4 linked regions of the Homo sapiens genome follow. The protein of the gene in region 1 interacts with the protein of each later gene in a biochemical or structural test. Each region holds a gene or a part of one and is shown in the gene's direction. Other genes may lie near its edges. The genes, in order: ERBIN, ACVR2A, ARHGEF7 and KCNA4.

What was found.
Region 2: the proteins of ERBIN (region 1) and ACVR2A interact in a test that uses a peptide from one of them, tested with the Homo sapiens proteins (2 studies listed by BioGRID and IntAct).
Region 3: the proteins of ERBIN (region 1) and ARHGEF7 interact in a test that uses a peptide from one of them, tested with the Homo sapiens proteins (2 studies listed by BioGRID and IntAct).
Region 4: the proteins of ERBIN (region 1) and KCNA4 interact in a test that uses a peptide from one of them, tested with the Homo sapiens proteins (3 studies listed by BioGRID and IntAct, with this or other methods).

The regions. Positions count from the first base shown.
Region 1 is NC_000005.10:65,929,566-65,936,591, forward strand, and holds part of ERBIN (erbin), read left to right. Parts: intron 1-7,026. UniProt on the Homo sapiens protein: Acts as an adapter for the receptor ERBB2, in epithelia. By binding the unphosphorylated 'Tyr-1248' of receptor ERBB2, it may contribute to stabilize this unphosphorylated state.
Region 2 is NC_000002.12:147,848,016-147,855,041, forward strand, and holds part of ACVR2A (activin receptor type-2A isoform 1 precursor), read left to right. Parts: intron 1-7,026. UniProt on the Homo sapiens protein: On ligand binding, forms a receptor complex consisting of two type II and two type I transmembrane serine/threonine kinases.
Region 3 is NC_000013.11:111,272,293-111,279,318, forward strand, and holds part of ARHGEF7 (rho guanine nucleotide exchange factor 7), read left to right. Parts: intron 1-1,521; coding exon 1,522-1,660; intron 1,661-2,438; coding exon 2,439-2,498; intron 2,499-3,239; coding exon 3,240-3,386; intron 3,387-5,294; coding exon 5,295-5,381; intron 5,382-7,026. UniProt on the Homo sapiens protein: Acts as a RAC1 guanine nucleotide exchange factor (GEF) and can induce membrane ruffling. Functions in cell migration, attachment and cell spreading. Promotes targeting of RAC1 to focal adhesions. May function as a positive regulator of apoptosis.
Region 4 is NC_000011.10:30,014,015-30,021,565, reverse strand, and holds the start of KCNA4 (potassium voltage-gated channel subfamily A member 4), read left to right. Parts: upstream 1-4,535; 5' UTR 4,536-4,994; intron 4,995-7,551. UniProt on the Homo sapiens protein: Voltage-gated potassium channel that mediates transmembrane potassium transport in excitable membranes. Forms tetrameric potassium-selective channels through which potassium ions pass in accordance with their electrochemical gradient.

The DNA.
Region 1 (7,026 bases):
CTTGCTTCCGTTTTCTTTTTCTGGGAATACATCTCTATTATAAACCTCTAAAGATGTCTTTGTCTTTTCCTCTTTTTTTTTTTTTTTTTTTTCGAGATGGAGTCTTGCTCTGTTGCCTAGGCTGGAGTGCAGTGGCACAATCTCGACTCACCACAACCTCCACCTCCCGGGTTCCAGCGATTCTCCTGCTTCAGCCTCCCAAGTAGCTGGGATTACAAGCGCACATCATCATGCCTAGCTAATTTTTGTATTTTTAGTAGAGACAGGTTTTGCCATGTTGGCCAGGCTGGTCTCGAACTCCCGACCTCAGGTGATCTGCCCACCTTGGCCTACCGAAGTGCTGGGATTACAGGTGTGAGCCACTGAGCCCGGCCTACTGCTAACTCCCATTTTTCAGATTCACTTTTTAGCTGTCTCTTCTTAGGTTTCCTAATTGTAAAAAAGAAACTTAGCTGCTATTCAGCTTTCTCTTCTGATTCCCTTAGCTTCCTATATTTATAGTTAGCTTCATTTACCTAGCCTTATTTTCTCTGTGTTCAGTTGGTCGTTCTTAATTATATTTTGCCATTTCCCTCTTTTCCAAACTGTTAGTCTATGTTTATCACCTCAAAAAACTGTTCAAAACATGCAGTGGAAAAAGTTTATCTGATCTTATTTTATTAGCCCATTTAATTCTGAATATCCCCTTTGCATTTCAACTAAGTGTACATGCTGGTATTTTAACTTTATATTCATCAGTATATTGCTTTGTTTATTTTGAGATGGAGTCTTGCTCTGTCGCCCAGGCTGGAGTGCAGTGGCAAGATTTTGGCCCACTGCAAGCTGCGCCTCCCCCAGGTTCACGCCATTCTCCTGCCTCAGCCTCCCGAGTAGCTGGGACTAGAGGCGCCCGCCACTGTGCCCGGCTAATTTTTTTGTATTTTTAGTAGAGACGCGGTTTCACCGTGTTAGCCAGGATGGTCTTTATCTCCTGACCTCGTGATCTGCCCACCTCGGCCTCTCAAAGTGCTGGGATTACAGGCATGAGCCACCGCTCCCGGCCATTGTTTGTTTTATACTTTGTTTTCTCAGTTTTCCTTTTTCTCTTTAGTGTTCTTAAAATTGACTGTTAAGATAATACCAGGTTGTTATTTATTCTTATGTATTAAGACTTTGTAACCCTCTCTACCTTCTTGTTTTATTATACTTTTGGCCTCTTAAAACATACAGATATATTTCTCTGTTCCTTCTTCTCTGTACCTTCCTCTTCTGTCCTACCTTTCAAGTTAGATGTCTTCTCTGACACAGAATCCCTAAAATTTTGAAATTATCTTTCTTTGATTTCATGAAATAAGCACAATAGTACTCTATCACTCTATTTTTGTCACTTCAAATTTTGTTCCAGACACCATTGAATGAAGGTCTTGCCAGGCTTTAAGTGATAGTGTGGAAGACGATAGAAAAGGAGAATATCTAAAAATTCACTTTGTGGAAGACGATAGAAAAGGAGAATATCTAAAAATTCACTTAATAAGACTCTACTTATCTGGAGGTTATTTATTATAGCTTTAAAAGCATATTGAATGTAGTAGAAAAACTAGAAAATAAAAAATGACATCTCCTTAATCACAACAGGTATGACAGAGTCTGGGGACTTCACTTTTAGGGCCATTATTATTCAGAGCCCATTTACTTATGTACATAATGAGCTGTTTTTGGTTCTTTGGTATCCCAGAAGGCGTGAGAAAGGTACGTTTACAGCATTGTGAAGTTATGACCTGTGGTGTTACAGTGAAGCAATAGAAAAATGGAAAGATGACTGAATAACTTAGAAAATAATCTGGGACAACTTACTTTGAGGCTAAGTGCCTTGTACATTTCATTTCCCTGTAGGAGGATTCACTCTGTTATAATATGGTATAATTACAAGAAATAGTAATAGTCCTAAGGCAGCTGTTCTCAGACTTTTTGGTTTGACTCAAAACAGAAATTAAAAAAAATTAATTTATTTGAAAATAAGCTATTGCATGTTAGTGTAACATTGTTTTAATAAAAATATAATTGTTTTCTAAAATAAATAGCAAAAATAGTGGCAATGTTTTATATTTTTGCAAGTCTCTTATGTTTGGCTTAATAGAAAACAGCTCGATTCTCATATCTGCTTCTTCACTCCATCTGTTACAGTATGTTCTTTTGGCTAAAGTATATGAAGAAAATCCAGCCTTATACAGGTATTTGGTTGGAAAAGGGAGGAAGATTTTCTTTCTTTTCTTTCTTTTTTTTTTTTTTTTTGAGATGGAGTTTGCTCTTGTTGCCCAGACTGGAGTGCAGTGGTGCAGTCTCGGCTCACCGCAGCCTCTGCCTCCCGGGTTTAAGCGATTCTCTTGCCTCAGCCTCCTGAGTAGCTGGGATTACAGGCATGCGCCACCATGTCCAGCTAATTTTGTATTTTTTGTAGAGACAGGGTTTCTCCACGTTGGTCAGGCTGGTCTTGAACTCCTGACCTCAGGTGATCTGCCCGCCTCGGCCTCCCAAAGTGCTGGGATTACAGGCGTGAGCCACCGCGCAAAGTGCTGGTCACAAGGTCAGGAGATCAAGACCATGGACAACACAGTGAAACCCTGTCTCTACTAAAATACAAAAAATTAGCTCGGTGTGGTCACAAACGCCTGTAATCCCAGCTACTCAGGAGGCTGAGGCAGGAGAATTGCCTGAACTCGGGAGGTGGAGGTTGCAGTGAGCCGAGATCGCGCCACTGCATTCCAGCCTGGCGACAGAGCAAGACTCCGTCTCAAAAAAAAAAAAAAAAAAAGACATAAACCTGGGAATATGTAGTGGTACTATTGCAGCTTGAAGGCATTGCCTTTGTTCTTGTAAAGGTGTTAGCTGTTGCAACCATTGCTTTTGCAACATCAGTGTAAAATGTAAATATAATGGAAAAGGGAAAAATGACATTTCAATATTATAAACACAGTTTTGACCTGGAAGGTTCCTTGAAAGTGTCTCAGGGACTTCCAGAGACTGTGGACTTCCAGGGCCTATGGACTGCACTTCAAGAACTTAGGTGGAAGTTGGGATTTATGGAACTTTCATTAATTAAATTTTTTTTCTTGTCTGTTCGTATTGGATTCTGGGAGAGTGTTGAAGCTTGATCTTTAAGCCCACTTACTTGATTTTCATTTGTTTTCAGTTATTTTGTTACTTGTTTTTGGAACAGAGTTTCTAAGAATTCTAGTTTTTCATAGGAGTTATTTTTGTTTTTATTTTTTTGAGACAGGATCTCACTGTGTTGCCCAGGCTGGAGTGCAGTGGCATACTCACGGCTCACTGCAGCCTCGGACTCCTGGGCTCAAGCTATCCTGTCACCTCACCTTCAGCCGAGACTATAGGCATGCACCACCATGCCCGGCTAATGTTTTATTTTTTTTTGTAGAGATGGGTTCTTGCTCTGTTGTTCAGGCTGGTCTTGAACTCCTGGCCTCAAGCAGTCCTCCCTCCTTGGTCTCCCAAAGTGCTGGGATTATGGCATGAGCCGCTGCACCTGGCCCAATTTTGGTTTTCTAGCCCTATTTTTGGTCTGCATGTAACCTTTAATCTCTGAGATGTTCTTTTAACATTGTCTTTTGTTTATTCTACTAACACTACAGAAAATTTGATCTTACTGTGCTTTTGGTGTATGTCATGCTTTTTGTTTTTTCTTCAAATACTAGATTTTCATGGTAGTCAAAGTTTTATATGATGACCTAGTCTCTACTGTATTGGTCATTTAAATATATGTTCCCAGCCCAATGAATCCTTCTTCTGGCTTTGGTGATTGCTTAGAAGAGGAAAGGGAGAAATATTTAACGAGTTTCTCTTTGAAGGTATGTGGGTAGCTTGACCTTTTGGTACAGGTGCTTACTGTTCCTCAGGAGGCAGTCTCCTTTTTTCATAATCACACTGTCCAAGTGTCACATCTCCTACATACATAGAGCTGTACTAGAGGCTTTAGCTACACAGTGTTTTACTATGGTTTTGCTCTCTGGCTGACCGCTCAGGATATGCTTCTCTTAATCCTTCTTGCTAAGAAAACTCATCTTTTTTGGAGATCCCACTTTCTTCTTGTTTTGGGTGTCTGGTTCCTCAAGTGTATTGCATTTTGTTATTTCCCCGACCCCAGCCTACTTTGTATTCTTTATAAATTCCGTTCTGTTCTTATCTGTAGGTATACCCCTCCCAGGTTTTCAGCACTGCTATAGATATTTTTAAATTAAATTTTAATTTTTGAAACAATGACTGACATATGGAAAAGTTTGAACATTTTTTTTCCTGAACCATTTGACTAAGTTGCTAACATGATGCCCTGTCGTCATCCCTAAATATATATTTTTTTTTATTTGAGAGCTCTGTCGCCCAGGCTGGAGTGCAGTGGCGTGATCTTGGCTCACTGCAAGCTCCACCTCCTGGATTCACGCCAGTTCTCCTGCCTCAGCCTCCCAAGTAGCTGAGACTATAGACGCCCGCCACCACGCCTGGCTAATTTTTTGTATTTTTAGTAGAGATGGGGTTTCACCGTGTTAGCCAGGGTGGTCTTGATCTCCTGATGTCATGATTTGCCTGCCTTGGCCTCCCAAAGTGCTGGGACTACAGGCGTGAGCCACCGCGCCCAGCCCGTCACCCCTAAATATTTTAATGTTTATTTCCTACAAACAAGGATATTCTCCTGCATATAATGACATCATTACCATCAAAATCAGAAAGTAAACATGAATATATTACTAACATCTGAACCTCAATTATCCCAATAATGTGTTTTACAGCAAACTATTCCAGTTTGGAATCATGTGTTACATTTTGTTGTCATCTCTTTATTCTCCTTCAATCTGGAATAATTTCTTTCTCTTTTTTTTCAAGGCCTTGACACTTTTGAAGATCTGAAGATGACAGGCCTAGTTATTCTGTAGAATACCCCTCAATTTTCATTTGTGTGATATTTTTCATGATTAGATCTTTGATTAGATTTTTATGATTAGATCTTTGGCAGGGTTATTGTAAAAGTGATGCTGCATTCTTCTTATTACGTCTTATCAGGTGGCAGGCAATTTCAGTGTGTCCTATTATGGTATTCACTTTATGTGATTAAAGTTGTGGCTGCCAGACTTGCCCTTTTTAAGGTATTCATTCCCTGTTTGTAATTAACTAATATTTTGCGGTAGGTGCTTTGAAACTATGTAAATATTTTGTTTTGTTTGTCATATTTTAAATTCACTTATTTACATGTACCTAGGTTTATCTTCGCAAGGACATAATGCATTACTATTTATTTTGGTGCTCAAATTGTTCTTGATTGGCCAGTGAGAACCCCCTGGCTTATTTTCTTTTTTGTTTTTGATACCTCTTCCTTTTTTGAGTACTCCTTGTTTTTTAGCACAATTAGATGTTCTAACATATCTTCTACTTTTCCTGGTTGTTTTTAGTGGAAAATGATACTTAGAAGCCAAGATCTGGGGCTTGTGTACATTGTTGTTTTTAGGGTATTGTTACTCTCAGGCCCTCTTCATATACAAAGCTAGGAAATATTTTTATGTACTTACACATATTTACATCTATTTTTATTTATATATCTATAAATATATACAATGGTCCCTGATTTATACTTCTTTGACTTTACCAGGGGTTTTATTGGGGTACTAAGTGCATTTTCAACCTGTGATATTTTTGGCTTAAATGATGGGTTTATCCAGATGTAAACCCATTGTAAATCGAGGAGCATCTGCATATTTCTATAATGCAATTCTAATCCAGCACCACCAGGTTCACTCTAAGTTGTTTTTTTTCCCCTTTCCATACTTGTAACTTATCTCTAACAGTGAGAAATAGTTTTGTTTCCATATGTTATGTGTGTGAGGAAGTTAAGGTAAACATTTGTTCAAACATTTTTGAGCCAGAAGTGTCTGCAGTCCAATTAATTTCTGAAGTATTTCTAAAGAGATAAAATTCCAAACTGTAAAAAGGCAAGTTTTAATTCCGTGATAAAGTACATTTATGTGAAATATTTCATTCCTTAGTAATTCTTGAGGCGACTGTGAAAGGAGGATGGAAGAAATCCAGTACTTTTACTCTTTACATTGGACAAGTTATTTGTGGAGATAATTGCTCAATTTCAGTATGAGTGCAGTGATTTTGATGCAGTTGTGTTTTTCTTTTTTATTCTTTTTTGGAGAAGGGTCTCGCTCTGTCGCCCAGGCTGTAGTGCAGTGGCATGATCACTGCTCACTGCAGCTTTGAACTCATGGCCTCAATCAATCCTTTCACCTCAGCATCCTGAGTAGCTGAGACTACAGGCATATGCCACCACGCCCAGCTAATTTTTCTATTTTTTATAGAGGTAGAGGTCTTACTATGTTGCCAGGATTGGTCTCCAGCTCCTGGGCTTGAGTGATCCTTCCACCTCGAACCTCCCAAAGTACTGGGATTACAGGTGTGAGCCACTGCACCCAGCTGTGGTTTTCATATATTCAGGTTATATTGTTTGCATGATCCTGAAGTCTTGAAGCACCTAATAATGGTGTTCTTGGAATTTCACACCTTAGGTCACTCTAGACTCTTTGTGGGAGCATGGAGGGAGGTCTGATGGAGGGGGGGTGGGGAGAGGAGGGTATGTTTGTAGTAGGACCAGTGCAAGAAACTAGTGATCTAAAAATGAATCTTGTTGCCAAGGTTATCACACAACCTAGAATAAGTTGGTTTGACTTTCCTCTTCCTTATAGATTTTGGAAGTGATTTAAGAGGCATATCCTTTGAGACTAGAATAAATCTCTCAGTCTTCTAGGAAAAGATAAGGATCTTGGCAGCATCAAATGGATCCTTTGGGTGCCCTATTAATCCCTGGGGACTTCAGAAGATTTAGTTTATTGTCTTGATGCTGACTGCAAAATAGCAGGGACTGTATATAGTAGATGCTTTTTGATTTGTCGTGGATACCTGGTATCAACAGAGGGTCCTGTCTGCTCTTTTAAAAGCCATTCCCAAGCCAGGGACCCTAGGAGTCATCTTTATTTTCCTGAC
Region 2 (7,026 bases), on another chromosome or scaffold:
ATGAAAGAGGAAATGGAAATATGGTAATTATGTTTTCTTCAGTTCAGCTAGGCAGTACTGTGTATGTGTGAATGTATGTGTGGTTGGAGGGGGAGTTAGCATTACAGAGAATCTTTTGGGATTCTTTTGAACTTTGATTAACAAGTGATGGATGATAAATACTTTGTTTTCTAAAAGGCAGAATCTCTTATAAATGGTGTCTGTGGTCAAATTCAAATATAATACATTGAAACATGGAGACTAGAAACAAAATGAAACAAAATTCTCCCTCCATTCATTTTCTATTTTTTTTTCCTGTTTATGATCTAAGCCAACAGTTCTCAAGCTGGGGTGAGTCCCCCTCCCTACTTCCCCAGATCCCCATCCATGGGACATTTGGAGACATTTTTGGTTGTCACAACAGGGGACGGGGTGTGCTACTGGCATCTAGTTGGGTAGAGGGCAGGGATGCTTCTAATCGTCCTAAAATACATGGTACAGCCTTCCACAACAAAGAGTTAGCTGGCTCAATATGTCAGTAGTGTAGAGGTCAAAAAACCCTGTTCTAAGAAAACCAAATACCACATGTTCCTATAAGTAGGAGCAAAATGATGAGAAAACATGAAAACAAAGAACAGAACAGCAGACACTGGGGTCTACTCAAGGATGGAGGGTGGGAGGAGGTAGATGAGCAGAAAAGATAACTATTGGGTACTGGACTTAATACCTGGGTAATGAAGTAATCTGCACAGCAAACCCCATTATACGAGTTTACCCATGTAACAGACCTTCACATGTACCCCCAAACCTAAAATACAAATTAAAAAAAAAGGAAAAACTCAGTTCTAAACTCTTAAATTTTAAAAGCAGTAGTTTATTAGTAAAAGGGCTCTGCTCTCTTCCCCCTAAAGTTAGTAATCTAAATTTTACAAGTACATGGTATTGATGATCTCCAGGTAACGTTGTATTGAAAGATTTTTATCTTTTCATTATCTTTTAAATTAGAATATGATTAAATTAGAGAAACAGACTATAGATACGCACATTCTTTCATCCTTGATGAAATGCTTGAGAATTCACCAGTATAGTATAATATTTTATACTATAATAAAATATTCCAATGACTTATGGATAAACTCTCCTATCACCGATTTTGATAGAGTGCTCATGAAGACTGCATGTTCCTGGACATAATGAATGATTGGTTAAGGTATCAAGTTTAATTATATTTGCTTTAGATCCAGGATTTTCTTTGCCATGATATGATCTTTAAGGATATTTGCCTTTATTTTTACTGACATCATTGGGCTGCCTTATGGCGGTATTCGTGTGTGTGTGTAACATGTTGCCTGAAATATGTTCACTATTACATGTTCCCTGAATAGTTTCAAGGTAGAAATTCTGTTTTTTTAAAAAAGATATTTCTTTTGTCTAGCTAACTTTAATTTCAAGAAACTTTTAACCTAATCTCTTAATTACATAATTATCTTGAGAATCACTAGCTGGGTTTTGGTTACCGTTAGACTAATTCATGATACAGTAAGTAATATTTTATGATCTATTGCAGATCGTTTCCCTTTTTAAGGCTAAATCTTGACCATAATTAATAAAATGCTTACCTTGTTTTGAACTCTGGTTTTAAGGGAGTTAACCTAGCCAACCAAGATAAGAATTACAGTGAAACTCTTAGCAAATTAAGGAGCATTATACCATAGAGAGGAAAATTCTGAAGTCATTCCCACAAATGGTGTCCAAATGAGCCTCACAGTGTCTTTGTAACACACCTCTCCATACCCTTCTCTCTGATACTGACATTTTCGCCTTTTGGGTCCACCAGACTCACTGTTCTTAAGAGAAGCACAACTAAACCAAATGAGATTTTAGTAATCTCTAAATTGTTTCTTTAGATTCCAAGACTTTATTTTGTTGCATTTTGACTTTTTAAAGTGCTACTATGATTTTCTCATCTTTGATATTTCATGAGTCCAATGATTTAAATTTGTGTTTTCATGGTCTGTTAAGTTGCCAGTTGCCATGTTGTCTCAGATTATAGGTAAGGTTGGCAACATTTGATACTAGGGGTCACTGGTATGCCTTAGCTTTTTGCTCACTGCTCTGTAACTCATTGTTTTTTCCATTCCCTTTCATTATTGTTCCCTTTCCATTTTCCTCCCTTCTTTGTCTACTCCCTTTTCTTCCCCTGACCCTTCTGTACTTCCTTATACTGCTTGCTTGTGGAACCCAGTTGTGGCTTAGCATCATGGGTGACTCCAGAGGGCTTACCCGTAGTTTTAATGAAAACAGATTGAATTTAGAATGCTTGAGAATTGACCAGATAGTCTTTTCCACTGTTTTTTCATTTACTGGTTTCTGGACTACCTCGCACACCCTCTTGGGAATAGTGTTACTCTCTTAGAATCAAATGGCTTGAACTTTAGATTGCTCTTATTCTCTTTTTTAATATTCAGGTTTTCCTTAACTCTTTGCTGCTTCAGAAAAAGTTTCGCTCATCTTATTATTCATTTATCATCTCTGTTTAAGCCAAAATTTGACTAGAACCAAGAGTATATTTATTGCTGCTGATAGGACCACATTAGACTTCCTCTGTGGTAGATTTAATTCTGTTAGATTGTAAAATAGTCATGTCTAGACAGAACATTGATTTCAAATTGACTATTGAACATGAAAATTCCAGGAATAGTGTATAGAGGAAGGAGGAGGAGGAGGAGAAATCAAGAAGGTAAGAAAACTACTGTAGATAGCAAGTGACTTTCTGTCATTCTCCACCTAGATTTCTTGTTAGTCACTTTTGTATACCCAGTGCATCTAGAGGTCAGGCTTTGTTTTAATAAAGGGACTTAAAGGAAATATGTTTTTGTCTCTGAGATTGGATTTTTTGAACTGTTAGAGTGGTGGACCTAAGGGAAAGAATTGGAAACTTCATATGGATAGTGATCAAGAATGTGGTCGTAGAGGTTGGTAGACTTGAGCTGTGGTGTCAGTGCTGCCAGTATCTAGCTTATGTATCATTTTCTGTTACTTGATTATTGTAGCACTTTTCTAGCTAAGATTCACCAGTTCCCTATCACTACTTCCTTTTCTTTCTAGTCCATCTGCATAGCTGCTGGAGTGATCTTATTAAAAAATAAATCTGAATATGTTACCCTTGCTTAAAACCTTTCACTGACTGTGAGTCACCTTTAGCATAGAATCTAAAGTCTTAGAATGTCATAAAAGGTCCTTCATCGTTTGGTTCCTGCCTATTTTTTCTAACCTCTTGGTATTGGTTAAGAGTATAGACTCTGGATATAGACCTAATTGGTTTAAATCTTGGTTTCATAACTTAACCTTGGTCAAGTTACTTCACCTTTGTGTGCCTCAGTTTTCTCATCTACACAATGGGGGGATATTAATAGTGCCTACCTCAGAGAGTGGTTTGAATATTAAATGCTAGTTATTCTGCTGCAGCTTCTCCTCAGCCTGAGTACTATATTCCATCCATACAGACTTGACTTGCAGTTTCTTAAATGTGTAATCCTTTATTGTATATCAGTATGGTGCCTTTGTACATATTACTCTTCCTCTTCTACCTGGCTAACCCCTTTTTGGTTTTAAGACTGAGAAGTATCACCTCTTTAGAAACATTTTCTCTGTCACTCAACCCAGATTGAGTTAGTTGCTTTCTGTTCATCTAACACCTTGTAAATGACCTTGATTTCAGTAATAATTGCAAATGTTTACTTGCCTGTTTCCACTTTAGACTGTGCAAATGTTTACTTTCCTGTTTCTACTCTTTGAAGACATCTTTCCTTTATCCACACACCCATTCCTGGAACCTGGTACACAATAGGTGCTCAGCAAATGTTTATTAAATGAATGAAATGAAATTATTTCACTTCTCTGAGCCACGGTTGTCCTCTTAATGTATTGAAGTGGTGAACTTGGATTAGATGATCCCTGATTTTTTTTCCTACTCTGAAAGCTTTATGGTTCTATAATTTTAAGGTTAGAGTTCAGTGGTGACATTTTATTAAGAAAAGATGATTTTGCTCATTGTTTTGATATCTTTAAGTTATGTTCAAATTTAAATTTTTTTAAATAATTAAAATTAGAATTTGAATTATATAGATTTAGAGGGGATCTTAGGTATCCTCATGTTCCATGGCTTTCATACTTTTTTGACTGTAATACACAATAGGAATTACACATTGCATTATGACTTAGTTCCCATGTAGTAGTAGGGGTGTATGTATATATGTCTGTGTGCATCAGAAATGAAAGTTTCATGAACTGTGTACTCTTAACTATGTGCAGGACACTTATGTATTTTTATATTACATTTCATTTAAAAAACATTGATCGTGACCCATTAATTGATTCATTGACCAACTAATGGATTGTAAATCCCTAAAACCAGTGACCTAGTTCAACAATCCTTATTTCCTGTATTCAGTACTCTCTTAGTGGAAAAGGAAGCTTCATATGTAAATGTGTGCAATGAAAAATATATGCACTGAAAAATATGGTCATTAATTAATCTACAATAGAGACTGTGTGCCTAGGTATAGAATATAGGGAAAACTGGTCTCAAGGGAGAACATGGCTCTTCCCTGATTAAGGTCTTCTCTCTTTTGGACTAGTCGAATAAATTAAGCACACACGAAGGCGCTGAAACAACATTAGATTGTAATTTTGGGGAGTTGGGATTTTTTAATTTAGGAAAGACTTGCTGGACTTAGTACTGGAAAAAAAGTCTTAGACGGAGATTAGGAAGGATGTTAATATGAAGGAAAAGACACAAAATAGCATCAGGAACACAATAGCCATTTGAGAGTAAACTTGACCATGGATGAAGGCAAGGTGGGATGGAGAAATTTTGACTAAATCTGAGGAAGAGATTTGTGTGATGAAGAGAGTTCACAATTGCTTGAAGAAGTAGGACAATCTCAGGGGGTTAACCCTTAAATTCAAATGAAAAGTAATTAAAACTGAGGAGGTAAGAGTGGATGATACATATCCTGATGTATGTCCCAAATACCCCATATGTGGATATAGGACTGAAAAGCAACTCGAAGACTAAGGTAGAATGGTAGCACTACTAAATAAAATTGGTAAGGAAGTAATGAGCCAGAGGAAAATTGAAAGTGCCTTCATAACTAAAAAAGTTTACAGATAGATATAGTTTTAGATGATAAGCATGAATAGAAATAAAGACATGTATTTGGAAAAATAAGAGTACATAATAAAACATGATAACGTAATATTCTCTTAAAGAGGCAGACACTGTATGATGGATATGTCTTCATTGTGAAGTCTAGTTAAAGAATTCTAAACATTAGTGGCTCAATATGTTGTTTATGTTTAAATGATGGTCAAATTTCAGTAATTACTCATACTGGTCATCCAGATTATATTCTTTGAAATCTGTATGAGACCCTACAGTAAAATACACTGTTCTAAGGAAGTAGATTTAGATGCTTTTCTGAATTTGGTATATGGTATTCACGCTTGAAACCTAAACTTTTCAGTGACCATTCTTTTGGACTAGTTTTTTCTTTGGTTGGCTGTAGTCACACTGGGAATTACTTTATTCTCTAATATTGCTAAAGAAAATAAATGTAAAGCAAGAAGAGAGTTACTACATTAGAAGGACTGGCTACACATGTGGGGAGGGGTTGCCTTTCAAAAGATTTTAAAAATGAATCAAGTCTTTACATATTGTAATAAAAGTAAGCCTATTTATAAAGCTTAGAGGGAGGAGTTTTCGTAGTTATGATTATTAACTTTAAAATTTTTATTTTAAAGGAAAAGTTTATTGTTCTTCCCATCTTCATAACTATATGTGATATATCAAGCTTGCTCCAAGGCATTATTTCAAGAGGAAGGGGCATGGACAAGTTATGAGATCTTGGCACATTTCTAAAACTCTGAGATTAACTTTTAAAATTTGTAAACCAAGATGTATTAAATGAATTGATAACTCCACATAACATGGTAGCTGGTCCAGAGTAGATCTTACATATTAGTTTTTAATCTATCTTTAAGTCCCATTTAAAAGGATATGGTATGTAAAACATTAAAAAATATAGATTTGGTTCTTGGGGGATATTTACATTTGCAGGTTACTTATCAGTCAGTTAATGTGAAATAATACTCTGACTAAATGATACAGCCAAAGAACATATCATTATAGAGAGCCAGATAGCTGCCAATAAATATCTAGAATATTCAGATATCGTGGTTCCTTACAAAGAGTTCTTTAAGGTCTCACTGTTTTAGCATGCATTAAAAAGAAACAATGGACTAAATCGTCTCTATTTATTAGTGGGAATTTAAAATATCTTTTTTTCTTGGACAACTTCTCTTAAACTTTTTAAGTGTTTTAAAACTTTTTAGTAGAAGTAAAGTTTTGAAAGATTCTCAAGTCTGTTTTTTAGGTACCAGCTACTTTAAGCTTTGAAAACACAAAGCTATTCAATGACTGTACTTTGAGATCAATATTTTGAATGTGGTATAATATTTTGGACTAAAACTTAAGAGTCTGTCATTCAAATTCCTACTTTCCTACTGACTCTTCTTTGACCTTTGACAGCCATTAAGATTTCACTTTACTCACCCTAAATTAAAGAGGGTGAAATAGGTATTCATTCACTTAACAAATCAATATTGAACTACATGCTAGACACTATGGTAAGTGCTTGGGATACATTATTAAACATGAAGACAGATATGATTATGCCTTTCTGAAGCTTATAGTCATAAAGTAAGTAGTCAAATGAACAACATAATTACAGATTGTCATACGTGCTCGGACAGAAACTAACAGGGTGCCGAGAGGATTACTCTTTATTTGCCTTATCACATATCACATCTGTTTACTTTATCTGCCTATTTCTTTTTTTTTTGAGACTGAGTCTCGCTCTGTTGGCCAGGCTGGAGTGCAGTGGTGCAATCTTGGCTTACCACAACCCCAGCCTTCCAGTTCAAGTGATTCTCCTGCCTCAGCCTCCTGAGTAACTGGGACTACAGGCATGCGCCACCATGCCT
Region 3 (7,026 bases), on another chromosome or scaffold:
TCCTCTGGGTTAGCCAAAACACTGTCTGTCTTTTCCCCGGGAGCCCTTGATGGTTCTGGTGTCCCCGAGACCTCTGGCAGTAGCCAGCTTGGCTGGGGTGGTGCGGTGGGAGGCTCCTGTGAGACCAGAACCGGAAATTGGCTTGTTTCTCAGTTTTGCTGTTAGGATTTTCATGTTTATTTTAGGACATCGTTTACATAATGAGGATATAAAAGTATCTTTTCCTTTTAAGGGAAAACCTCTAGACTAGGAAAATTTGTTCCTAGGATTTGTGCCATGGGTATCATTTGAACCAAGCTCTGCTGACTAGAGACCCCTATCTTCTAGGATGGGGCGTGGTGATGGGGCGGGGGTCACCTGGGTCTCCTGGATGGGATGTGGTGACTGAGAAGTCATCCTGGTCTGGACCTGGCATCGGCTGCCAGCGCTGGTGCTGCCTCCCCTCCTTTCTGTGGGCTGTACACTGTCAGATGTGTGGACTGATGGCACATGCAATTTGAGGGACAGCAGACCCAGGGCCTGACAGAGACCTCAGAGATCGCCAGTGAAGGGGTGTTGCGGTCAGGTGACTGTCAGCCTTAACAAACGTGTGGGTGAAGAGCTGGACCCCCCACAGAAGCCTGCCCGTGTCCTCTGCCACAGCCATGGGAACTCTGAGGACAAAGATGACACACATGAGGACCCACTGTAGGGAAAGATAGGCGAGGCACTGTGAAGGGGATGGTTGAAGAGGAATACAGAAAGTTCTAAAACTTGTTTCTGACTCTTTAATTTTGGGATATGCACTGTTTCTATGTCCATACACAGGGACACCTTCCTTCCTTACGTGTTGTGAGGATTGAATGTAACAATGCTTTTGAAGTTCTAAAGCGTAAATCAACATTCGCTGTCTGCACACAGGGACCCCTTTCTTCCTCACGTATTGTGAGGATTAAACTTAAAGCTTTTGAAGTTCTGAAGCCTAAATCAGCGTTTGCTCTCTTCTCTTGCTGCTTCTCGTGCTCCTCACCCCAAGAGCCATTGCCTACTCCCAGGCTGAGTGCTGGCAGCACATAGGTGGGGCCTGCTCGCTGGACGAACTCGCATCTGGGGATGACTACCATCAGTGTGCTCTAGCTCTTTACCGGAGCAGCTCGGTCCTTGTTCTACCACCTTGAGACTCTGAGATTATTGGAATCCATTCTGGCTCTGAGTGTGCATGTTTCCATTGGATATGTCTGCATGGCACTGATGTGCTGGAGGACCTCGCCATCAGTAGGATCTCATGGAGACCCACATGTCCTGTGCTGTGTATAGTTATTGTTGCTCATATGAGAGCAGGAACGGGACCCCTTAGGGATGGGAGTCCCCTTTGGCATTTCCAGATAAGCAGCGCAGATTTGGGATAAAAGCTGGAGCCTTCCAGATGTTAAAAGCAACACTTATGTTTCATAAATTCTGGCTGTTGCTCATGGAGATGAGAGAGCCACCATTGTCTCTCATTGCTAACCACGAGTGTCTCTCTTGCCACTTGCTGCCCAGTGAGGAGTTGGGGGAGTTCATGGAGACCAAAGGTGCCAGCAGCCCTGGGATTCTCGTGCTGACCACGGGCCTGAGCAAACCCTTCATGCGCCTGGATAAATACCCTACGCTGCTCAAAGAGCTCGAGAGACACATGGAGGTACTGCGCTTTCATTCTCTTACTTGGAGTCCTTACCAAGGGTTAGTGGCATGGTCAGACTTACTGTGAAAGAAAGTATTATTCATGATTTATTTTAGAAGCCAGAACCAACAGAGTTTACAAAGAGTTTTGTTAAATATTATGTTTTTCTCCTTATTCCAGCTCTATTAGAAAACATTTACCCCTTATCTCTCTTTTACCCACTGCTGCTGATTGAAAAGTTTCCAAAAGCTGAAACATGAGAACTGATTTTCAGATAGTGTTGAGATGTCTTACCTGGATCATCCAGCTACAAACAATGTGTGCATAGGTTATAGGGTAATACTGTACTAATCATTTGATGAATGATTGTGCTCTTTTAATTTTGAATAACAGGTTGCAGCCTAGCAGAAATTTGGGTTGAAGTTACTCTCTTGGCTTGAGTTGGCAAACCTTTTCTATAAGGGGGCAGACTGTAGGGTCTTCTTCACGGCTACACAGCTCTGCCATTTTAGATACTGTATGTGAGCCGTGGCAGTGTTCCAATAAGACTTTATTGATGAAGCAAGTGTTGGCTTCCCCACCCCTGCTGCTTGTGACTGTTCTCTTCCAACTTATATTTCCCCAAAGTCTAATGGCTTCGTGATTTGCTGAAAGACTGACACTTTAATGCTGAGGGAAAAAGGGAATGTTAAGGGTTGAAAAGTGTTAGAAAAGTTTCAAGCTGGTCTGTAGAAAGTACCTTTTTAAGAAAAGCTTTTCCTTATGAAAGCTAATTGTATGTTTCTTTTACTCAAAGGATTATCATACAGATAGACAAGATATTCAAAAATCCATGGCTGCCTTCAAAAACCTTTCAGTAAGTGATTAAGCATATTGTTTTCCCCCCCAGACATTATTGTGACAAATGAATGTAAAAGAATTATCAACTGAAAAAGTCAAATGATTAAAAAATGACTTGTGCTGACATGAAAGAAAAACAGAGTCGGCATTCTGTGGCTGGTAAACTCCTTTTAGTGGACTATGATAGAATAATTATTTAAATTTTTTAAAGTCACTGTGTAATTGATGTTAGATCTACTTTAAAATTGTTTAAAACATTTTTTTACCCTTCATTCATGTTGTCTTTAATGATTTATTGCAAAACAGAACAATGGTGGTTCCATTTTCTCTGCTGTTGTGTTGTCTTACCAACTGCGTTTTGGAAATATATGGCCTTATTTTATAGCACAAGTTATACTTTCTGTTTCTTCTTTTCAGTCTTCCATATTGGCAAACACGAACAAAACCAGAATGAAAATACAGTTCTTGTCCTGTCCACATTTCTTTTTTGTACAAGTGGCAAAATGTGCTCTATCTTTCTAAAATAATACTTAGTATTCCAGAGCAGTTGTGTGTGTTGCTTCTCTTAACTTGGTTTCATACTTCTAAGCAAATACTTTCAATTCCCTATAATTAAGCAAATCGCTCAATAAATTATCTGTCTGAAGAAGTAAGATATAAAGCAATAATTGTCTTAAGGATGATACAAAGCAATGTGGCCGGAACTTAACATTCTGAAAGTTTATGTCTGTTAACAGTGTTGTTCTGTGTCTGTCAGGCCCAATGTCAAGAAGTCCGGAAGAGGAAAGAGCTTGAGCTGCAGATCCTGACGGAAGCCATCCGGAACTGGGAGGGCGATGACATTAAAACTCTGGGCAACGTCACTTACATGTCCCAGGTCCTGATTCAGTGTGCCGGAAGTGAGGTACTGCTGCCCACATGCACGCACCAGGGTTTCTGTCCCACTCTTAGGAGCTCATAGCAGAAGATTTTAAAGGCATCTCAAGCGATGAAAAATGTCTAATAGAAGCTCTATCTTATAATTTGTGAGCTACTTTTTATTCTTGACACAGGAGAGAGGCTTATGGCATGTTAGAGAGGCTTAGAGCTGAGTGTGGACTTGTTGATCAGTTTGATCCAGCTGAAGTCAGTGTGGCCCGAAGCCCACGTGAACTGAAGGATAGATAGTGTGCAGAAAGACTTGCAGGAGTCCTGTGCACACATCCGCATGGAGCTGTATGCGCTTATCTGGCCAGCAACTTTGTACCAAGGCTCACTCTCACAGGGACCTGCTGCTCTCAATGCTTTCGGGTCATTATACTTTCCTGTGAAAGTATGCTAGCTGACATATGCTTACAGGAGTCACAGTTTTCTTACAGGTTTGGTTTAAGTGAGAGATCAACCCAGATTTTTGGGACATACCCACCCACACAGTGAAAATCGAGCAGTTTGTTTCATGATTCACATTGACATACATTCAATGGGTCACTGAACAGGCACCTCTTTCTGAATTTTATTCTACCTTTGCAAAAATAACATGATCAAAACATGCGAAATGACTCATTTTTGAACACAAGACTCCAAGGAGAATAAGAAAACTAAAACTTCAAACTTATATAGTGTGTTTTCCTTTCCACCTGTAAAATATCACCCCTTCTACATAGTCTTGTAGTTTGGGTACCATAAGAAACCATGATTATAAAAACTTCACATCTTTTCAGAAGAAGTTTCTTTTTGAGTCATGCTCTTTTAAACTTTAATCTGTGGAAACATTTCCCAAAGTGTGTTCTTTATAATATTAGATCTATACAGCACTGGTGGGTGTTACTCCAAAATGCTTCAGAGTGGTTCTGATCACGACTGAACGTAATTAGTGGAAAAGATTCTTTATGATAGAGCTCCTCAGAGACTTGGCTGTGAATGTTCCCAATGTATGTTGTGATTCTTCAAGAGGGGAATATAGCAAGTCGTTCTCAGTGACTTCTTTAAAGTACGGAAGACTCTTTTCTCAAGGTGCTTTGCATAAGCCTAATGTTCTGAGGAATATACTTGGGGAAACTAATTCCTAGGACTGATTTCACTTTTTTGGGCCGTAGTTTAAATGTCAACATGTGAAAAGGACTGTGGCATTTTTTTGTCTCTTTTTGGATTCTTAGGAACTTTTTTCTTTCACTTATGGTCTCTTTGGCTTTTATCTTACTGAAGCAAATGATTTTTAATACATAAGTAATACTTTTAAGTCTGATGTAAACCAGGTGATGTTTATGGGGTGGATGAAAACAACACTGAGTCGACATTTGGGAGGTTTGGGAAGTGCCAGGAATTACTAGTAGACCAAAATTGATTTTAACATTTTATCCTTTCTTTAGCTTAAAGACTCCACCTGTTCCCCCTGACCCCATTAAAATTTATAGGTTCTCTCCTTTTTCTCTGAACCAGAAAAAGAAAATTTTAGCTTACCTGAAAATAGTTAATCACAGAGCTGAACTCTTTAACCAAATATAGTTTCAAGATGTTACACAGGCTAATTGTGAGTCCAGGATCTTTTAATCAGTCCGTTTACTTTCTTACCTTTTGTTTTTTGAAGAATTTGGAAGTCCTTCTCTTTACCTATATGTTAAAGCTCTCTCATAATCATATGTTAAGACTTAATACAGAATTTATCATAATTGTTTCCATTTAATTTACCTGATAAAACTTGATAGAAATACCTAAACGAGAAATATCATGTAATGTTTCATAGGGCCTAGTATAAATAAGTGAAGTATTTGTGCTCACATTTGTTAAGTAGATGTTTTTTAAGAAATGTTTTGGATTTCTTTTTTTGTATTAGGAAAAGAATGAAAGATATCTTCTACTCTTCCCAAATGTTTTGCTAATGTTGTCTGCCAGTCCTAGGATGAGTGGCTTTATCTATCAGGTAAAACACAATTTAAATTTATATTTTATTGTGGATCTGAGGATAATTTCAAACTGGCTTTGAATTTTGTGTTAAATATTACGTGTATCTATCTGTGTATGTGCTGTGTGTGTAGTGCTGTATATTCAGATATGGACGTACAGCTCCTGTTTGTGTTTCGTTGTGACTGCAAGCATATCCTATGTTAATTTCAAAAAAGGAAAGAAGTGTAAACTGTAGAGCAACCTCATAAGGACACAGACTACTGTGGCACAAGTCAGTCTCTGTCATTGCCTTCTGTCGTTTCATGCAAAATACCTTGCTCCTCCTTGCTATGGTTTTATTCTGTGAAATTGGTTCAAGTAGGGCTTGTGGGTTAGTGGGGTAGTGTAGACTAAGATCTTGTGTCAGTGGCACGGCACCGCCCAAATGCATCAGCAAACAGAAAGTGATGTAAGGGTGTAAGTAGCAGTGTGTGATCGTTGAACCTTTTTAATTTTTGTTTCCCTGCTTCTCTTTGAGAAAATGTGACAGCAGATTTGGGAAGGAGGTGCAAGGGTGAGCAGGGCCTTTTCTGTTGCGACAGTGGTTTATAGTGGTGGTATATGAAGGAGCTGGTATTTTCGCTGTCTGTCTAGTAGATGCACTTGGCAGGTTTCATTCTTCTTTTTCTGGGAAGTTACAGAGGCTCATATCCTTCCCATCAACTTTCTGAGGACTGGCCAGTCACCACGTAACCACTGCAGCAGAAGCCGCCACTTCGTGTTCTCTGGGTTGCATTTCATTGTAGCACGTGTTGTTTTGTGTTGGCGCAGCAAGGACGTTCAAGATCCCTAAGCAGACACTATGCCCTCACAGAGGCTCTGCCGACACCCAGAGAGGACTTGTGGCCATACGCTTACACCAACACACGTGCTTTAGAATTGGTGAATCACATATGTAGGAACAGACTCAGGAAAGTGAGGCTGTAGTTTGTTAGGCCACTGCTGAAGAGAGGTGATCTGTGGCTAGGATAGTGCCCACTACAGTTTCCCCCAAACTAGCAGCTACTTCTGTGTTAAATGACCTTGATAAACCTAAATCTCTGTCCTTTCTGGTCAGCACTATCTGGCTTCCGATTTTATATCCCCAGAATCTCATTCCAGTGGCTGGAGGCAGGGGCCTTCTCTAACCTAAGGAGAGAAGAGGTTGTCACTTGTGGCAGGCTTGAGTCTCTGCCTGTGTGGCTGGTGCTTACACTGGATTTGCCCTTGATGTGTTGACAGACTGCTGGAGCTCATCTCAACAACAGGATTTTATTTTTCCATTCTTAGCACAGTGGTGACCCATGGTCTCTGTATCATTGGTATCCGTTTCTACCATTAGAACACTGGCTTTGGGGGATGCCAAAAAGTGTTCGGTCCAGCCACAGTCATAGTGTTCTATACACCGATGTTCAGAGGGGCTAGGTTAAACACAGTTGTGCGGTTTCATTTTCTGTAGGACTTACAGCTGTTAAAGTACTTATATGCATTACGAATCTTGGAAAGGAGTTCACAGTGTGTAGCATTTTTTAAATACGCTTGGCCACAGAAGTGTCCAGCAGTCTCCTCTTCCACCGGCCATGCTTTAGGATGAGATTTCTCAGCCTGGGCACTGCTGACGTTCTGGACTGGATCGTTCATGG
Region 4 (7,551 bases), on another chromosome or scaffold:
AATAAAACACTAATTATAGTAAGAAACAAATATGCTCTTCTGATATCTTAAGTTTTGACCAGTGCCTATATGCGTAAGATAAATTAGGAAGTGGTGGTGAACAGTCATTGAAAAACCCAAGAAAAAACTAGCTGAGTGACTCACATTTTATAAGGAATGATGGGCTGATCAAAATATCCCCATCCATAAATTTGGATATGGGAGCATGGAACCAAATCTCCAAGGCCTTCTCACCACCCCCACGCCCATCACTTCAGAACTTTAAAAGTGAGATAGATAGTTGAGAGGCTGGGGTGAGCAGGTGAAAAAGCAATCTTCTAGTTCTCTCACAACACATTCACTGAACTTTCTTGGCAAAGGGAAGCCTCTTCCATTATTCATTCACATTCTACTCTGGGTCAAGTACAACGCTAGTTGCTCAGGATATAATGTCTGTTCTCAGTGAAGTATCACAGGCATGTTTGGGGAGATAGAGGAGTAAACAGAACATTGCAATTCACTGTGGACCACAGTCCTCAAAGAGAACAAAAACATTTATAATGGGCCTAGCTTGTATCCCACAGGGCTTCCTATCGTGCTTTGTACAGAGACGATCTGTTGGCCTCTGCCACTTTCTATATAAGCAAAGGCTTCACGGTGTGATCTGGAACATTTGTACCACCACTGAGAGAATTCAAAGCCAGGGATACATTCTTTGTGGTAATAGGTGTATTTGGTGGTGGAGAGCTTAAAGAATTTTGACTAGTTGATGACTAAGAAAGGCAAGAAAATAATTTTTTCCTCTTTATAGAAAAGAGGGGCTGGGCACAGTGGCTCATACCTGTAATCGTGGTGGGCACTTTGGGAGGCTGAGGCAGGAGGAGAACTTGAGGCCAGTTTGAGACCAACCTGGTCAGCATAATGAGACCCTGTCTCTACAAAAACTAAAAATAAATAAATAAATAAAAATAACTGGGCATGGTGACACATACCTGTAGTCCCAGCTACTCTGGAGCCTGAGGCAGGAGGATCACTTGAGCCCAGCAGTTAGTTTGAGGTTGCTGTGAGGTGTGATCATGCCAGTGCACTCCAGCCTGGGTGACAGAATGAGAACCCATTTCAAAAGAAAATAAAAAGTAAACAAGGTTTGGGGACTAAGACAAGGTAGATTTTTATTGGTCTCAATCAAAGAATCTTTTTGCTACTGTTTATGGGTTCCTAGAAATTCCTAGGATAATTTCAAGGAGAGAAATAGAATGTTTCTTGTTTGCTTTATGAATTAATTATTTAAATGGGCAAAGAGGTAGGGGTGTGTGTGTGCATGTGGTGGGAGAAGGCTGGGAGGGGGCATGCTCTTCCCAGTTGGTCCTAACCTATCTCTAGCTCCAGTTAGTTGCTTCTGTTCCATCCCAGCACTATGTGCCTGTGCATTCTCCATGGCGGCCACTCCAACTCTTATGATTTTTCAGACAGTGCTCTCTCTCCTTGGGAATTCTTGCTTACCGCCTCCACACTAGATGCTGCTTTACTCTTTGCACCAAGGAGCAACATTCTCATACCTCCATCATAACACAAATCCCCTTGCTTCATAATCTGTATATGCATCTGTGACAGCCACTAGCTTGTATGAACAAATGGGCATAGACCACATCACTAGCACGGGGTCAGTCTACACTGCAGAGTCAGATATGTAAGGCCTTGTTCTGCTACATAATTAGCTATATAACCTTTGGGCAAGTTAGCTAATCATTGTAAGCCTTCATTTCCTTTTCTATAAAATAGTGGTTATAATAGTACTTATCACATAAAAAAGCATTTAGTTATGCAAATAAAATTACATAATATACATTCAAAGAACTTAGCACAGAGCCAGGTAGGAGGCAGACACTCAGTTAATCTTACCTGCCTTGCGCAAGTCCTCCTGAGAGTAGAGTTTTTCCTCAGCAGCATTCCTGTCGTATTTTAGTAATTCAGATTACCAACACCTAAGAAATGCAAATATTAAAGTCCTCAGGCATTGAAAACTTTAAAATTATCTGGGATAGGAACAAACAGCAAAAGGGAAGCATAATTCATAAAGTTTAAACACGACTCAATTAAAATATCCAAGCTTCAATACAACTATCATCTCTAGTACATCATTCCATCTCACTTTTCATCTCCCTGAAAGCACTGCATAGCTGTACCGGATTGATCTCATAAACTGCTTTTGGGAAACAGGTCCCAGTCCTGCTTTTTACTATCCCAAGAAATATCCTTCTAATGAGCCAACAATAAATATTACCAGTTATTTGCTTCTGGTACTTATGAAACTGCACAGTGATATCACATTGTGGAGGTACAGAGAGGGTTTGAGGCGAGTGAGCATGATCGTTCTCACTTTTAGAGAAACCCGGTCTTGCTGCTCTTCGAATGAACTGCAGTAGGGAATAAATTGAGGCAAAGAACGTCTCTAGAGCCAGCATGAAGATACCTTTCTCTCAGCTCCACCAGGGTTGAGGCCAGGGGGTTACAGTTAAACTTATTCATGCCAAAATTTCAAGCTGCACTAGCTGAAAGACGTTGGAAAAACCAGGGTGCACTCCAGGTTTCATTTCTTCTTTTTCTTTCACACTGATTACAATTCGATTTTGTGTGTGTGTGTCCGGTTATTTGAAAAGATAAAAGAAAAATCAAACAGCAACAAAAAGCAGCCCTCCAGGTGTCCTTTTCCGAGCCCGCAACGGTTAGGTGAGTGAGTGCAAGGCATATCTATAATTCAGCTCGGGAATATTTCCCTTAATAATTAATTGAGCATCACAAAAGGAGGAGGCCCAATAGAGCCCTTGAACAAAGCTGCCGCCCCGAGGACGACAGTGACAGTCCTGGCGCCAACCAACCAGCCCAAGGTCGGATTTGCTCCAGCAGTCCGGGGCATAGCGCTGCCACTGCCTGCTTGGTCCATCGGGCGAGCTGGGAGAGGTGTCTAGGGAGACCCCGTCGCCACGTGGGCTTCTGGTTATTTGTGTGTGTGTGTGTGTGTGTGTGTGTGTTTGTTTGTGTGTGTGCGCACGCGCTCGCGTGTGTGGGAGTGGGGTGGAGATGGACAGCAAAACCCTTTTTTTTTTTTTTTTTTTTTTAAATGGAGGTGGGCAGTGGGAGAGATCACTAAGATAGAGTCCTCCCGGGAGCCAAACCTCTCGCCCGGTTGATTCTGGCAAGCCTGAGACAGGCAAACTGTCTACTTTCCTGTTTTGATGTGGTCCGAAGAAATAAACAAGAAACAAGGAGAGACCCTTCCTCAAACTGTAACTCCAGCCAATTAGCATGAAAAGCTCAAGAAGCTATTAACCAGAAGTTTCGGCTTTAGGGGACCAGGGACTTGCCCGAGGCCCTGGCATGCGCGGCGGCTAGGTTTAACTTTCAACTCATAGTGACCTTTTCCTTAATTTAATGCAAAAAATCTTTCCCAGAGGTGGAGATTTAAGATGCTAATGATACATACGTCCTATGAAGAAGCATGTTAAACCACCATGCATGCACCAGAAAAACTCCACCTCTACATGCCCTGTCTATAGTTCTCCTTATTTCCCCTTACGGGAGAGGCCCGTAAAAGAAACCCACACCCTGACTTCGAGGAACAGCCCACTTTTTTTTTTCTTGGTGTTAGCTCCCTTGTGCGCACAAGCTTTAATTAAAAGAAAGAAAGAAAGAAAACCAAAAAAACTTGCTTTTTGCTGCGATATCCCTTGATTTCTGTCCTGAAGGATCCAAAGAGCCCTCAGGGAGTCGATACCAGAGCCGTATTTGTTTTTGCAGCAACAGGTTGGCTGCGGGCTCTTCCCCCGCCTTCCAAAGCCCTCAGCCCCTGGCCCACCCTGCAACTTACTCATCTCTCCAACCCTCCTCCCCTAGAACTGCTGCCTCCTGTGCGCAGCCCCTAGCCTGGGCCTGATTCCAATTTCTGTAACATTCCCCTGCCCGGGATTGAATACAGGTTGAAAGTCGGTCTCCTCCGCGCCCCTGAGGCCCAACCCCGGCGCTGAAGCCTCCCAACTCCTGTGTGCAAAGGAGACGGAGACTGAGGGATCTGGGCGCTCTGGCAGGCACAGGAGGGCTCCCCGCCCGTGGCCTCGCCGGAGATGCACCCGGCTCCCAACCCAACAAACCCGCTTTGGGAGGGGATGGGGTGGGGAAAAGAAGACGGGGCTCGGGGCTCGAGGGGAGATATAGAGAAAGCAAGTTAGGTAGAGGAGATGTCCCAGAGGACCCCATTTTCGGGACTGCACCTCCCATTGGAGCTCCCCGCTCCCAAGCCCTCTGGGGACTCCCGCGCTGCCGTCGAAACCCCTATTCCGGCCCCAACGGGGACACTTCTCCAGGATTTGCTCCTCGCCTGTGGGGACCACAGCCAAAGACTCCTGGAATCGATCCCAGATCCTGGGAGTCGGGGGGCCCAGCCGGGGTGCGGGGAGTCGCGGCGTCGTGACTGCACCCGCCCCGCCGCGCCGGGAGGCGCCCCTGGCGACCGTCGCGAACGCCACACCCTCGGTTCGGCCCTGGCCCCGCCCCCGCCCAGAGCGCGTTCGCGGCCAGGGGAGGCGTGTGCTGCTCCCGCAGCCAGCGAGAGCGAGAGAGGGATGGATGTTGGAGGAGGAATTCGGGCTTAACAAGTGATCGCTGCTGTCTAGGATTTTGTTTCTTTTCGGGGGAACCTTGACTTCCTTTCCCAGGCAATCCCTCCTGTGCTGAACTCCAGAGGAACCAGGAGTCTTGGGGTCTTCTCTGGGGCAGCCCCAACCCCCACCCCCAGGCTCCAGCCGCGAGGACTCTGTGCACCCCTCGGGCCAGGCAACAGAACTTGTTCCGTGGATATTTGGAGCCTCCACCTGCCAAACCCGAGTGATTCCTTTTACCACCCCCCGCCCCCCACCCAGGATCATTCTTCCCCTCCTCCAGCTGTTGCAGCTTGAGGGGGAAAAACAAGCCAGCCGGTGGATTTTCTTTATTTTTATTTTTCGCCCCGCCGGGGAACGGTAAGTATGATACCTTTTTTTTTTTTTTTTTTTTTTTGTATCTTTCCTCTACCTTCTTATTTTGGCTGTTAAGAAACAGTGGACATTTGAGGGATAAATAATATCGGGAATGTGACAGAAGGGCATGAATGGAAGGCGGTTAAAAATAAACCAGGAGGTGGGAGAAGGGAGGTGCGGATGCTGCGCGGCGCTCCGGGGGGCCAACAGTTGTTATTTTCCCAAACCCGGGGATGCGGTGAGTGCGCCCTGCTTAACGTGCTGGAGCGGGAACCGAGGTCTGGAGGCGAGGGCGCGATTAAAGATGTCGTTTCCCAACGAGAGGGGGGTTAAGATTTAGCATCGTTTCGCCTCCTCCCAGCCGCACCGGTTCCCTTCTTTTGGGAACAGCCGGTGAACGGGTCTGAATTGCTGCCTCTTCCAACGTTTGGATTTGCGTGCATTTTCCGAGCATTTGAGCAACATACATAGGGGCTGCATAAATGGCGTGCGTTGAAGTGTATATTTCTCACGGTGGTGGCTTTTCTGATTCCCTCTCTCAGTTTCTCTCTCTTTCTCTCTCTCTCTCTCTCTAAGGTTCAGGTACCACCCTGACAGTGACACAGTTGCAGGAATTAGCACTGAGAGACGAACAGCCTTGTTGTTGGAGGGGTGAGAGGAGGAGGGGCGGGATGCTTGGCTGTTGTTTGGGGGCGCCGGGATTGGGGAATAGGTAGTCTGCAAAATCCTATTAGTTTAATGGTGTTAAAGAAGAAGACAAATTCCTCTGCAAAGATCTCTCTCATAAAGGCTCCTGGGAATTGGCTTGAATAGATTCTCCTAACAAGAGTACCTTGAGAAAGAAGAGAGATTTTAAACCAGTCTGATTTGCTGGGAGGAATGATTTTTCTTTTCTCTTCTTTTCTTTCTCTCTCCCTTTCTTTCTAGATCAGGGATAGTGAAGTAACTAGTAGATGATTAAAAGGAAGGCAATTTGCTACTTGTAGGGTGGAGGAGGGAGTTAGATAAACAAAAACTAACAATCCCAAATAAATAAATAAATGTGAAATTATTTGGTGTAGAGCAGAAAGAGGGCAGTTCTAGAACTCCCGAAGAGCTGATGGTGAATTAGAAGACTCGCTAATTCATGACCTTCTGGGAGTCAGTTGGGTGGGAAGGCAGTGTGTGTAGTATTCAACTATACAGGAACTTGGGTTACATTGGGGCTTCATTGAAATTATAATTGTTTTAGGGGAGTTGGGGAAGAAACTGAGCAAACTCTCAGGCTATTTGGTCTGTACCGGTCTTGAAAGGATGTTGGCCTGACACTCCACTGCGAATGTCACCCCAGGATGGTTTTGTAAGTAGGGATTTGGAAACTCCTTGAGGGTAAACATTTCAGAGTATGAGATGATGTTAGGAGTCAGGCAAAGGAAGGGAGATGGCATGTGAGATGCCCTCTGTGGTGTATTTTCTGGAGTTTGTGTTGCAATCAAATGCCCTTCTTGCCCTAGGAAAATATATATGATTGGGAAGGGGTGTATGATTGGGAAGACCTCTGTTTGCCACTTCCATGCTTGTCACTTCATAAAATTCAGTGTGTTTAGGCTTTTAGGCTGACAGGATCAGCAAGGAGCAGCAGGTGGTCAAGAGCTGAATCCTGTTAATGGCTTCAGAAAGCCATTTCTCTTATGCTTTCCAAGTGCTTCCAGTAATAGAAGCTGGTAGATGCCCTGAATTCTGACTATCATCATTCTCTCCAGTTCTCTGGGTTACTCCCTGCATTCTTGGAAGTCCTGTTGAACAGAGTACATGGAAAAATCAAGAGGAGACAGGAGATTTGGATGGGGGCTTTTACAGGGCCTGGCTGAGGAGATGAATTACCTGGATCTTGGGAGAGCAAACTAAGGAAGAAGAAGGGCCAGGAATAACAGGTGACAGAGGGAGCAGATCGGAGCTGCAAGGGACATGCAATTCAGAAGTGTGAGATTGTAAATAAAAGTGGGCAGAGAGAGAGAAAGAGAGAGGAGGGGGGATGTTAGGGATGTGGATTTTATTGAAGTGGGGGTAAGTATGATAGGCTAAGAATGAAGTCCACAGAAACTGACATTTAAAAAAATAAGGAGATAGTCCCTTGAGCAGAGTGGAGGAGGAACCATTGAGGTGAACATGGAGTGACCGCCAAGGAGAGAAGATGGTTATTAGAGATGTGGAAATTGGCATTAGTTCCTAGTCTGTGGGTGGTAGGGAGTGTTCAGGATTCAAGGGAACAGAAAAACAATGGGGACATGCTGTAGGGAGTCAGGCAGTGCCAACTTAACAAGGGCCATTGGTGAGTCTCAGGATGTCTTGTATGTCCTCACGTCCCATCTTCCCCTACTTTAGTTTGTGGCCTAAGGACACAAACACTTGGGGCTGTGTAGATAGACAATAAAAACATAGGTTGCTGTTATGTTATTCATAACTGCCAGTGTTTATTGCCATTCATTAGGTAAAAGGCACTGAGATATTCTATCAACATCCATTATCTCATTTAATCCTTACAAACATGGGATGGGGGAGGTTGTGTTATTATTTGTAC